Linked DNA regions of Homo sapiens: regions 2 and 3 are each linked to region 1. The links come from fine-mapping of genetic effects on gene expression. A gene starts in region 1. Each other region holds a variant in brackets. All regions are shown on one strand. Distances are between the middles of the regions.

Region 1 (4,239 bases):
CACCTCTACCTCTCTTCCTCTCTTCCTCCGACGCCCTCTTTGACAATTCTCCATGTACTCCTGCCTTCTTCCCTCCCGCCCCTGCCCACGGGTTGAGCACATGGTGGTCTCTCTCTGACCCTAAGACACAAGTCCAGTGATGTGTCTATCCCTGTGCCAGGTTGAGCATCTCATGGCTCCTCTGACTGTGTGCTGCCCCTGGCATCACAGTCTAAGGATGCCTCCTTAGATCCTTGGGTGCTGGTCCCCCGGGGCCGGGCTGTGGGACTCCTTACCACCGCCCCCCAGTTATTCTTCCCTAATCTCTCTGGATTCAGCTTCCCCTCCGACCCCTTACCTCTCCCCAGTTTGCTCCCACCACTGCTTCCTTTCGTGAGATGGGCTCCCCCACTCCATTTGAGTCATACCATCCCCCTGCTAAACTGCAGCTAGAGGCAGAAACAAAACCCTCCTCAGGGTCTTCCAAATCTCCCCACCCCCCAACTCCCCAGCCCCATCCCTGCGGCCCGTTGGAGATGGGCACAAGGGGAAGCTCTCAAAGCCCCGCCGTGGGGCAAAGACCTCTGGTCCACGTCCACCTCCGGGCAGTTGGAAGAGCAGGCTCCTCCAGGGCCCAGGAAGAGTCCGCGGGAGGCAGACAGCGTCCCCGTCCTTGCAACCATCTCGCCCGCCCGACTGGGAAGACAGTGACAAAGTTCGGGCGCAGAAAAGGCAGGGTCAGGGCAACCGCCGAGTGGCAGCGGCAGGGACTAGACTGTGTTTGACCTTGGCAAACCCCACTCTTTCTGGGCCGGAGGCATGTCCACAGAAGGGTGGCCAGCAAGGCTGGAAGAGCCGAAGTCCTTTCCCACCACCCATATACCACCCTCGGGTCCGCAGGGTTGGGAGGCGAGCCCAGCACGCGCTCTAGGTGCGCAGGGGAAGAGCCCAGCGCTGCGCGCAGAGCCGGCCTTGGAGCTTGCCCTGGGGGTCTGCTCTCCTCGCCCACTTTCAGTCCCTCTGTGGGGATGGGTGCGGCAAAAGACCGGCGGACCCCTCTGGCCGCCGTCTGGCCGCTCATCAGCTCCCTGACCTTGGCCAAACCTTTCTCTCTCCACACCTGTCTCCCCTCTCCACACTTCACGCCAGGGGCGCTTCGTGGATTGTAACTCTGAAGAGAGCCCTGGCCGGAGGGTGCCAGCCCCGACTGCGTCCCCAACTCGTAGGAGTGACCTTGAACACACCCCCACTCGGAGCCTCAGTGTCCCCACCCGCCGCATAGGAAAAAGCGCGCCCGACTCCGGGCATTCCCAGCATCGTCCCAGCAAGTGTGTCCGAGACCAGATGAGGGGTGCGCGGCTGCACTTACCGTCCTCCAGAGACGTGGGCGCTTGGCGGGGACCAAGGTGGCTGTGACCAGCAAGTGCGACGCAGCCACCACGAGCCCAAAGCCTATGGCCAGCAGGCTGCGCACGGGCAGCAAGGCATAGGACACGAAGGTGACCAAAAGGAGCTGCCAAACCCCTTGTTCGGCGGTCGCTGGCCCCCCAGCGGCCCCGGCGGAACCCCGGGCGGGGCCGCCCAGCGCGAAAGGACAGCAGAGCAGCGCGAAGGTGAGGCTGAAGAGCAGCGCCAGCTGGCCGACCTGCTGCAGCTGGGGCACCTGCAGGGACCGGACGTTGGTTACCACGAGCAGCGCCAGGAAGAGGACGCAGTGCACCGGGTGTGAGCCCTTGGCCAGGCCGGGCGCGGGCCCCGGCGCGCCCAGCAGCTCGGCCAGCGCCAGCGCGCCCGCCAGCAGGCTGAGAACGGCCAGCGCCTTCAGCGTGGCCGCCTGCTCCAGCCGCAGCGTGTAGCCGCGGAACAGCGCCTCCAGCTCTGGGCAAGCGAACTCCTCGTCGCACGCCCGGAGCCCGCGCCGGCGGCTTGTCCCGGCCGCCCGCTCGGCGCCCCCGGGCTCGCCCGCGCCGCCTCCGCCGCCGCCTCCGCCGCGCGGCGCCCCCGCCATCTCAGCGCCATGCAGCGGCCGCGGCCGCGGGCGCGCCCCTCGCCGGCCCGGGGCGCCGGGGCGCGGGCGGCGGCGCCGGGGCGGGCGGGCGGCGGGCGGCGAGGCGCCGGGGCGCGGGGCGCGGGGCGGGCGGAGTTGGGGCGCCGGCTGCCCCGCGCGCGCGCCCGGAGCGCGTCCCCTCCCGCCCGCCGCGCCTGCGCACTGGAGCCCGCCCGCGCCCCGACCGTGGTCCTCGGCGGCGACCGCGCTGCGACAGCCGAGCCCCGGGAGCCGCGAACCTGGGCGCGCACAGCCCGCGCCCCAACTCCGCGTCCTGCGTTCCCGCCCGCCGGAGGAGCCGCGTGACCTCGAGTACCTTCCTTGTCCCCTCCGAGCCTCAGTTTCCCCACCGTGCACAGTGGAACCCACCCTCTTGGCGTCACCTGGGGAGTCGAAAATACTGAAATCCTGCGAAATTCCCTGTTGCGGGGCAGTTAATCTTGGAAAATATGTGCCTTCCCCCACTCAATAAAACCAGGCCACTAGATTTGAGAGGGGCCCGCGTCTGACTGCGAACCCAGGGCCCTCGCCCCTACGAGACGGAGAATCGACGTCCAAGAATCCCCGGGGTCAGGAGGAAGGTGGAGGCCTGGGGCGTACGTCCCTTCCATGCGCATGAGGGACCCCCCGCCCCTCGGCAATTCTTCCCTAAGCTCTAGGGTCGCGGAGACCCTGTGGGCGGGTGCGGGCTGCGGGAGCTGTGCTGGGGAGGCGGCGGTGGTGAAGTCCAAGAAACAAAGTCCTGGGAGTCGGCCCGAGGGATTCCTCCTGGGTACTGAACTGAACCAGGATGGGCTCCTGGCAGTGCTGTGTCCCGGGAAGAAGGTGTGAGGCTGTAGGTGCAGAAATGGGGCAAGAGATGAAAGGAAAAGGGGCGCTGCTGTTTGCCTTAACGATTAGCTGGATACCCGAGAGAGAGCGAAACGTTTTCTTCTAGCAGGACAATTGGGAGGGAAGGACGCTGGCCCATGGGGGTTAAAACCCGCGAGTCGAATTCCACTGCTTACATTCATTCACTATGAGGGAGACAACTTTGTGCTGGTGCTTCAAGTACATGATGTCATTTGGTGCTCAGACGGCCCCTGGGCTGCCTGCATCCCCCTTACAGTGAGGATCTCTCATGATCAGCTCCCTCCAGGAGGCCTAGAGAGGAGTAGCCACTGCAAGAACCCCTGCCTCCTCCGTTATCCCGGCTGCTTCTCGTCCCCTCAATATGGATAGACCAGGAACTGGGATCCCATGAAATAATGGAGACCAGGAGGCTAGGCCCCCTGCAGAAGGCCCCACTCCCAGAAACCAGGATTTAAGGGATCTCGCCCAGGCATTGGTCTATTTTAGAAATGCCCCAGGGATTCCATTAACTCTCAGGGATTCCACGTGTTGTTATACGGAACAAAGGTTAGAATTTGAGGCATTTCCATTTTATCTGGAATTGGTATCAGGTTGAACCATACAAAATTGCCGTTTTTGTAAAAGGGCCAAAGTTGTCACATGTCAGCTCTTTCATATGCTTCAACTTAATAGTTGCAGATGATGACACCTCTAGGCTTTGTCTAGAGTAGGGGCACTTTCCCATCCCATGTCCCCAGTAGCTCACACCAAAGGCCCCCAGCAGACACTTGATGACAGCTGGTCCCTCCTCCTGGAATAGCATCCCCAACAGAACATCCTTTCTGAAACCTTTCTGGCTCCTTCTGGCACAGCTCGTTGCTTTCTCCCCAGTCCCAGTCTTCCGTGAAAATTCATACCCACCACTCTGTAGCCTCATTTTCTGTTCATTTGCCTTCCTCCCCTCTTTGAGCTGAAGCCCTCAGAGGGCAGCACTGGCTCTGAAAAGATGGCATGGCCCAACCTCTGTCACTGACTTGAGAAAGCACCTTCTTCTATCCACTAGTCCCCTGCTTATCCCCAAATAGGAGCAAAGTCTGCAAGATTTTTCTTTTCAAGTGTTAAGATTGAAGTGAAGATTTTCTTGTTAACTGGTGTGGTATATTTTTGGATCCTAACAATTTATTAAAGAAAAGCTGAATAATATCCAAAAAGGATCAAACTACATGAAAATGAAAAAGTATGATAAAGTTAATCTGGGTGCAAAGTTTACAAATAAATGGCACCTTCTTTTACCTGTTTTGGCTCTCAACTTTGTCCTCACTCAAAAAATGACATTCAGACAGGTGCAGTGGCTCATGCCTGTAATCTCCGCACTTTGGGAG
Region 2 (4,239 bases), 230 kb after region 1:
GTTCATTTTTGTGTAAGGTGTAAGGTCTGTGTCTTGGCTCTCTTTTGTGGGGAGTGGGCACATGGATGCTCAATTGTTCCAGCACCACCTGTTGAAAAGATGATCCTGTCTTCATTGAATTGCCTTTCTGCCTTTGTGAAAAAATCACTTCACTAGATTTGTATCACACTACAGACAACTTAAAATGGCTGGACTTAGGATTTATTTACTTTATGATGACGTGAAAGCTATACACGTTCAGTAGAAACCATACTTTCAGTTTCGAATTTTGATCTTTTCCTGGGCTAGCAATACACTGTGCCACACTCTCTTGTGATGCTGGGCAGCGACAGCAAACAACAGCTCCCAGTCAGCCATGCAGTCATGAGGGTAAACAAGTGACACTCTGCAGAGTCCTGTGTTTTTGAGTACTGATCATCAGAGTACTGATGATTTTGCCCTACTGTGGGCTAAAGTAAGTGTTCTGAACACGTTTATGGTAAACTAGGCTAGGCTAACCTATGATGTTGAATAAGTTAGGTGTATTCAATACATTTTCAACTTACAATATTTTCAACTTATGATGGGTTTATCAGGAAGTAACCCCATTGCAAGTCTGTATTGCTGTTCTCTATTCTCTTTCATTGATCAATGTGTCTATTTTTCCTCCAATACCAAATAGTATTGATTACTGTTACTTTATAATAAGTCTTAAAATTGAGTAAGATGAATATCTTCCAACTTTATTCTTCTTATTTACAATTACGGTGGAATTCTAGGTCTCTCGCCTCTCCACATAAATTTTAGAATCAGTTATTTGATATGTACAAAAAAGGTTGCTGGGATTTTTAATGGGACTGTGTTGAATAGATAAATTGAACTTAAGGTTATCTATTTATCCTTGAGTGAATTTTGGTAGTTTGTGTCTTTCAAGAAATTGCTTTATGTCGTTTAGTTACCAAATACACGGGGACTGAGTTGTTCATCGTATTCCTTTATTACCCTTTTAAGACCCACAGGATCAGTAGTGCTGATACATATCGTTTTCATTCCTTATATTGACAACTTGTGTCTTCCCTCATTTTTTCTTGGTTAGCTTAGCTAGAGATTTGTCAATTTTATTGATCTTTGCAAAAAGCCAACTTTTGATTTTATTTATTGTTTTCCTGTTCTCAATTTTGTTTATTTATGGTCTAATAATTATAATTTCCTTTCTCCTGCTTGCTTTAGGTCTAATTTGCTCTTCTTACTCTAGTTTCCTAAGGTGGAAGTTTAGATTATTGATTTTGGATCTTTTTCATTTCCAATATATGCAGCTTAATGCTATAGATTTATACCAGTCACTTTAGTTGCACCCCACAAAATTCAAATTTCATTGAATTTTCCAGAAATCTCTTCCCCAAAAGAGATTCAGAAACATTTGCCAACTCATTTATAAGGGCAGCACTACGCTAATACCAAATGCCAAAACTAGATAAAAATATTACAAAAAAAATACATTTTAATTTATTTTGAGACTTCTGTTTTGACCCATGGGTTTTAAAGGTGTGTTGTCGAACTACCAAATATTTGGACATTTTTCAACTAGTTTTCTGTTATTCTAGTTCAGTTTGTCTGCAATCTGAAAATATACTTTGTATGATATCTATCCCTTGAAATATGTTAAGGTGTGTTTTATTGCCCAGAGTGGGATCTGTCTTGGTGAATGTTCCATGTGAGCTTGAGGAGAATATGTATTCTGCTGTTGTTGGATGAAGTCGTCTATAGATGTCAATTAGAACCAGTTGATCAATGATGCTGTTATGTTCCACAATGCCCGCACTGATTTTCTGTGTGCTTGCTATATCACCTACTGGTATAGAGATATTGAGGTCTCCAACTAAAATATGATTTCTCCTTTCAGTTCTATCACCTTTGTCTTATGTATTTTGATGCTGTGTTGTTAGGTGCATAAACATTTAGGTCTTCTTGGAGAATTGTCTTCCTGTTTGTGTAATGTCACTCTTTATCCCTGATGATATTCCTGTTCTGTAGTCTGCTTTGTCTGAAATTAATATAGGTAATCGAGCTTTCTTTTGATTACTTTTAGGATAGCATACCTATCTGAGTCTTAATATTCCAATTCAATAAAATCTGTCTTTTAACTGCTGTATTTACACCATTCACATTTCAAGTATTTTTTGGTATAGTTGGGCTAAAATATACAATCTTTATAATGGCTTTTTTCTCGTTTCTTTTTTTGTTTGTTTCTCTTCTTCTTCCCTTTTTTCTATCTTTTCTTGCTTCAAT[T/G]GAATATTTTATATTATTCCACTTTATCTCTTCTTTGGCATATCATTTAAACTTCCATTTAAAACTTTTTAGTGGTTGCTGCAGGTGTTACGATGTGCATTTTTAAATAATTTACTTCCACCTCCAGTAACTTTACACCACATCTGGGATCTTTCTTCCATCTTTTGTGATACTGTGCTCATTCATTTCTCTTATCTATATGCTATGACCTTCCATTAGATTTTTCCTATTATTAATTTAAACGAAGTTATTTTATGTCCATTAAAAATAAGAAAACTAAAATATTTTATTTTACCTTTATTTATTCCTTTTCTGATGTTCTTCCTTTTTGGTATGGACCGAAGTTTCTGGCATATTATTTCTCTTTGGCCCAAAGTTCTTTTAACATTTCTTATAGGATAAGTCTACTGACATTGAGTCCTTCCAGGTCCAAGAAGGATATTTCTCATATCTTCACAATGAGAATCTGGTGAGGTTACTGAGCTAAAGCCCATGTACATGTGGATATCTCCATCTGTCTTAGACCCTTAGGGCTCCTTACTCACCAACTCTGTATTCAGCCTCCCAACTCTATGAAAATGACCATTTAAATGTTGCCACCAGATTATACATTTTGGGAGCTTCTGTTCCAAGTAAGCAATCTTTGATCTTGTATTTCTCTGGATGTACCTGTCTGTCTGGATTTTAAGGTGGTAGTTTATCCTGTTAACTCAGTTATATGATGGGTTCAAGAAAAGTCACAGATTTCAGTTTGTCCAACTTTTTCTTGTTGTAATTGTGGGAATGCTTATTTTCAAGCTCTGGTAATTATCTGTATTTAACTTTTTTTGTTTGTTTGTTTATTGTTCATTAATGGTGACTTATGTCTTTCAGAACTGAAAAACATTTTTTTGCATTATATCATTAATCATTTTTCACTCAACATAATGTTTTTGAGATTCATCTATGCTTTTGCATCTATCATTAATTTATTGCTTTTATGGATGAGTATTATTCCATTGTAATAAATGTGCCACAATTTGTTTATATACTCACCTGTTAATGGATGTGTGGTTGTTTCAGGTTTGGGCTATTAAAAATAAAACTGCTAAGAATATTTTTGTGCAAGGATTTGTATGATCATACAGTTTCATTGTGCCTTGGTAAAAACCTTAGAGTGAAATGGCAAGGTCATATGGTAGTTGTATGTTTAACTTTTTATGCAACTGGTAAACTGCTCCCCAGAGTGGTTGCAATATTTTACATTGATGTGGCAATGCATGAGAGTCCCAGTTTTTTCACATACTCATCATTAACTGGTATGTTCAGTCCTTTAACTACAGACATTCTAATAGGTGTTTACTGGTGTCTCATTTGGTTTTAATTTGCATTTCTTGAATGCATCTTTTCATGAGCTTATTTGACATTTACATATCTTTTTTTTTTTTTTTTTACTTTTTTTTTTTTTTTACTTTAAGTTCCGGGATACATGTGCTGAACGTGCAGGTTTGTTACATAGGCATACATGTGCCATGGTGGTTTGCTGCACCTATCAACCTGTCATCTAGGTTTTAAGCCCTGCATGCATTAGGTATTTGTCCTAATGCTCTCCCTCCCCTTGCCCCCCCGCCGCCCACAGCCCCCGGTGTGTGATGTTCCCCTCCCTGTGTCCACGTGTTCTCATTGTTCAACTCCCACTTATGAGTGAGAATATGCGGTGTTTGGTTTTCTGTTCCTGTGTTAGTTTGCTGAGCATGATGGTTTCCAGCTTCATCCATGTCCCTGCAAAGGACATGAATACATTCTTTTTTATGGCTGCAGAGTATTCCATGGTGTATATGTGCCATATTTTCCTTATCCAGTCTATCATTGATGGACATTTGGGTTGGTTCCAAGTCTTTGCTATTGTAAATAGTGCTGCAATAAACATATGTGTGCATATATCTTTATAGTAGAATGCTTTATAATCCTTTGGGTATATACCCAGTAATG
Region 3 (4,239 bases), 110 kb before region 1:
ATACTCCATGTGGGCAACCCTTTCTTGTGACACGCATGCACAAGGATCCGCAGACTTGCCCGGGCTGCCCCAAGGCCCAGGAATGCATATTCTAGCCCTAAAATTACTGGTATGCTCATTGGGCATTGCTAGGGGGTGTCACTGGATGGAGAACGACATGGCAGGGTCAAATACTGCATTTAATAACATTTCAAAGAACAACAAAGCCAAGAAAAAGCCATGTCAACCCAGATGAGAGGAAATGTCTCTCCCAGAAGTGTCCCTCAACTGGAAGAGTCATAGCCAAGGCCCAAATCTGCTGTCTGAGAATGAGGAACCAACCAGGCACCCTAGTAAATAACCTGGAAACCCCAGATCTCATGGGCCTGGGCTGTTCCAGTTTTTCTAGCTCATCCCAAGTCCATTCTTCTCAAGCTCTGAGTAGGTTTTTGCAACAAAAAGATCTGAACCCAGAGAGGCCAGCTGATGGCTGGGTCAACATATCCTCCCAGACCAGCCAGCTGGATCACCCTGGATAGCCAGCCAGAGCCAAACTAAGACCAAGTTCAGCAACACAGCCCATCATAAAGAGGCTCTTTTCCTATTACCTGGTGTGGCTTTAGCAAACTGCAGCTGGCCAGATCTCCCTTCCAGGGCAGGTATGTGCTGTATCTGGCCAGATCTCCCTTCCAGGGCAGGTATGTGCTGTATCTGCAGTCCATTCCCCACCGGTTCTGTACCAGGGAGGCCAGTCCAAGGACTCTACCAACAGGGTCCTGGGCCTCCTACTTCCGGCCAGGTTTGGCCAATGGGGAGCGGGAGCAGGGGCCAGTAGCGAGGGAGGAGAGCATTCCCAGTTCCTCTTTGCATGGTTGCTGCGGACTGGCTGCGTCTCCCGGCTGAAGGTGGTGAATCCTATCAGGCAGCCCTCTCTGTTCCCTGGTTCTAGGGCCCATTCCCACTGTGGCTGCCCCAAGTGCCACACCAGCCTGGAGATGCCCTGTGCCTGCCCCTGTCTTTCAAATAGTCCAAGCATCATAAGGGCTCCTGAACTCACCCCCTTAGAGTGTGCCCTCCGCTCTCAGCCCAGGCTGTGATACATGCACAGCCCCCTGGAGACCCACTCTACCTCCACTACTGCACCCTCACTTGATGGCCAACAGTGGCCAGACTCCACACGACCACTTCCGAGGTGCCCTCCTGCCAGCCCCTGACCATGCAACTTGCTTTCCTCAGGGCCCCTGTGGATCACAGGGCTCCCACCTGCCTCCTGGGCTGTGTGTCACACTCCATTGTCAGACCACCTTTGGAGACAGGGATCGGGTCCTATCGCCCTCCCTTTGCAGCTCCACTGCCCACAGGGGGCCTGGAGGGAGCACTGGCCCCTGTGATTGGACTCTGACTCCTCTCACAGTTTTTGCTGAAGAATTCCCTCTTTCTGCCATGTTCCTCGTCCCTTTCCCCTCAACCCCATCCCTCATCCTTCCATAACCGAATCTGAAGCATCGCACAAGGCCCAGAGAAACACAGTATGCCTGGCTTTGCTTCCTCTCAAACCCACTGTGGCCGCAGTCAGGCCTTCTGGCGTGAGGACTCACTTCCTGCCACAGCCTGCATTCCTCTGGTGATAAGTCAGACTCAGATGTTGATATGGTTTGGGTATCTGTCCCTGCCAAATCTCATGCTGAAATGTAATCCTAGTGTTGGAGATGGGGTCTGGTGGAAGGTGTGTGGGTCAAGCAGGTGGATACCTCATGGCTTGGTGCTATCCTTTCTCGCGATAGTCAGAGTTCTCGCAAGATCCAGTTGTTTTAAAGTGTGTGGCACCTTCCCCCCACCCCCTTGCTCCTGCTCTCGCCATGTGACATGTATGTTCATGTTTTGCCTTCTGCTATGAGTAAA[A/G]GCTCCCTGAGCCCTTCCCAGAAGCCAAGCAGATGCTGGTGCCTGTTGGTACAGCCTGTAGAACTGTGAGCCAATTAAACCTCTTTTCTTTATAAATAACCCAGTCTCTGATATTCCTTTATAGCAGTGCAAGAACAGCTTAATGCAGATGTATTTATGCCCCCACCAGGGTCCCCTCCCACTCCCCAGCAGGAATTAGGGCCTGTTCTGCCCAGACAGCCCTGCTGACAGTGAGCGCACCACACAGCAGCACTTCCCCGGGAGAGGCCAAAGGGCGAGGGTTCTCAGCAACCCCTGCCCACTCCAGAACCTGGAATTCAGGTATGCAGTGAAGACAGCGCCAGATCATGAGTCCCTCAGGAATCTGGATCTTCCCCACCTACAAGGCTAGCTCAGAGCTCCATCTAGTAGGACACAGGAATGTCTTCTGCCCAGAACAGGCACTAACTTAATACACAGGCTGAAAAATAAATGAAATGGGAAAATCTACAGACAGCGGGTAGACTGGTAGTTGCCTAGGGTTTGGGGGTTGAGGAGAAATGGGGAGTGTTAACTGATGGGGATGGGTTTCTCTTGAGGGAGATAAAAATATTCTAATATTGATTATAGTAATCGTTACAGGACTGTGAGTATACTGAAAACCACTGTTCACTAAACAAGTGAATTGTGTTATGTGAAATATATCTCAATAAAGCTATTATACAGTGAAGGAAAAAATAAGCCATGTTTTTCACCAAGCATTTGTGAGCACATGTATATAGATACACATATAGACAGTGTGTGTGTGTGATGTATGTATATGTTCTTTCTTTTGCTTACTCAAATCAACAACATAATTTCCATCACTTTAAATATGCATCCTGCCCTGTCATGCTGACATAAACCCACTGAGCTGCTTCTGTCTTTTCCAGATGAATAAAACTAGAGGAAACAATTGTGTTCATTTTTTTCATGAGTGATAACTTGCCTCCAGATGCTCCTCACACCTACCCTTCACCCTACTCTAACCCTCCCTCCCAGAAAGAGATCCCCCCAAAAATGGCTCATCACAGAGTAACAGGCTGCCAGACAAAGGGCTGCTCAGCCTTACCGAGCACCTACTTTGCACAAGGCCCGTGGCCAACGACATCAGGAATAGAATTTCAGTTATTTCTTGCACACCTGGATTAGGGTTCTCACCCCATTTTACTGCTGAAGCAGAAAGACAGATTGACCTATCACTGGTTGAAGTCATGCAGACCCTACATGGAGTTGCTGGAATTCAGGACGAGGACCACCTGATGCCAGGCCCAACCTTTGTTACCCCTGCTACTGCTGACCAGGGTTTCGGTCACTTAACTGCATGGCTTGATGCCCAGTCAGCCTCAGGAACAAAGACAAAAAATTGACAGGCTTCCCAACTCCAGCAGCAAGCCTGGTCCTGCTTCCACAGTGAGCTCTCAGCTGGTCCTGGCCACGCTTCCTCCTGGGCACCCTCTGGGCTGTGCCTGTCTGGTGTCTGTGCCCCAACTCTGGGCTGCACCTGCCTTCAGTCCTGACTGCAGAGTAGGACTAGGGTGAAAATGCTCTTGTCCTGCCTGGCCCCAGACACAGCTCTCTCCACAGGTTCAGAGCCTACCCAAAGATCACACAGATGGCAGCTGGATCCCAGCTCAGCCACCTTCTGGCTGCCCGACTCTGGCATGTTACTTTAGTGGCCCCTGTGTTCTTGTCTGTAATCCCAGCTCCTAGGCAGTGCTGTTCTGAAGACTGAATGAGATCAAATAGCTCCAACAGCGAAGAGCTATTCTTAAGGTGTCAAAATAAGAAGACTATCTCTTGCTAAAGCTAATATTCATCAGCCTTCATTCCCGGTTTTCAGGGGAGGAAACCTAGGAGGAGCAATTTTCCCAGGGTGAAACAGTTTGCAAATTCCACAAATGGGATTTGAACCCAGGTAGCCTGGTCCTAAATGTTTGATTGCCTCACCTCCCGGAGGGCTGTGGAGTATGGAGTTGGTGTGAAGATGCTCACACCAGCACCCACACGCTGCCTTGGCCCCTGGCCATGGGGTGGACACAGGTACACCCCTGCTGTGGCTCCGCAGCAGGAACTCAAGGTGAATATCTGGCAGTCATTGCCAGGATCACATCCAAACAGAAAGCCACCTACAGACTTCAGGAAAGCATGTCTCCTCTCCAGCCTGGTACCCAGATGTTTGGGGCCTGAAGCCAGTTCACATGTTTGCTACTCCATGGAGTCTCCCAAAGAGTGGTGCTTATGCCTCTTGTGTCAGAATTTCCCAGGGTACATGTAAAAATATAGACGTCCAGCCCCCACCTGCTGACCTACTCAATTTGGAGTAGGTGGTGAGAGTTT

Alleles and levels. Alleles are on the strand shown, and positions count from the first base shown. SD is a standard deviation of normalised expression in the study named. Not every link is listed here.
For the expression in aorta of the gene that starts at base 2,163 in region 1, allele T in region 2 goes with a higher level than allele G (moderate effect, 0.51 SD a copy in GTEx).

The links. PIP is the estimated chance that this variant, and not a neighbour inherited with it, causes the effect.
Region 2: its variant is the best candidate, but not a certain one, in a credible set for the expression of ADCY1 in aorta (GTEx, PIP 0.57).
Region 3: its variant is the best candidate, but not a certain one, in a credible set for the expression of ADCY1 in lung (TOPMed, PIP 0.63).

Annotation. Positions count from the first base shown.
Region 1 is chr7:45,572,292-45,576,530 of GRCh38, reverse strand. ADCY1 (adenylate cyclase 1) reads right to left here and starts at 2,163. Exons shown (of 20, transcript NM_021116.4): 1 at 1,349-2,163. The coding sequence starts at 1,987. RefSeq lists a silencer at 1,678-1,777 and an enhancer at 2,589-3,149.
Region 2 is chr7:45,338,483-45,342,721 of GRCh38, reverse strand. No RefSeq gene overlaps it. Among named protein-coding and RNA genes, the nearest start is that of RAMP3, 180 kb to the right of the region's middle. The variant T/G (reference allele first, on the strand shown) is at 2,269.
Region 3 is chr7:45,687,077-45,691,315 of GRCh38, reverse strand. All of the region lies in intron 14 of ADCY1 (adenylate cyclase 1), which reads right to left. Among named protein-coding and RNA genes, the nearest start is that of ADCY1, 110 kb to the right of the region's middle. The variant A/G (reference allele first, on the strand shown) is at 1,882.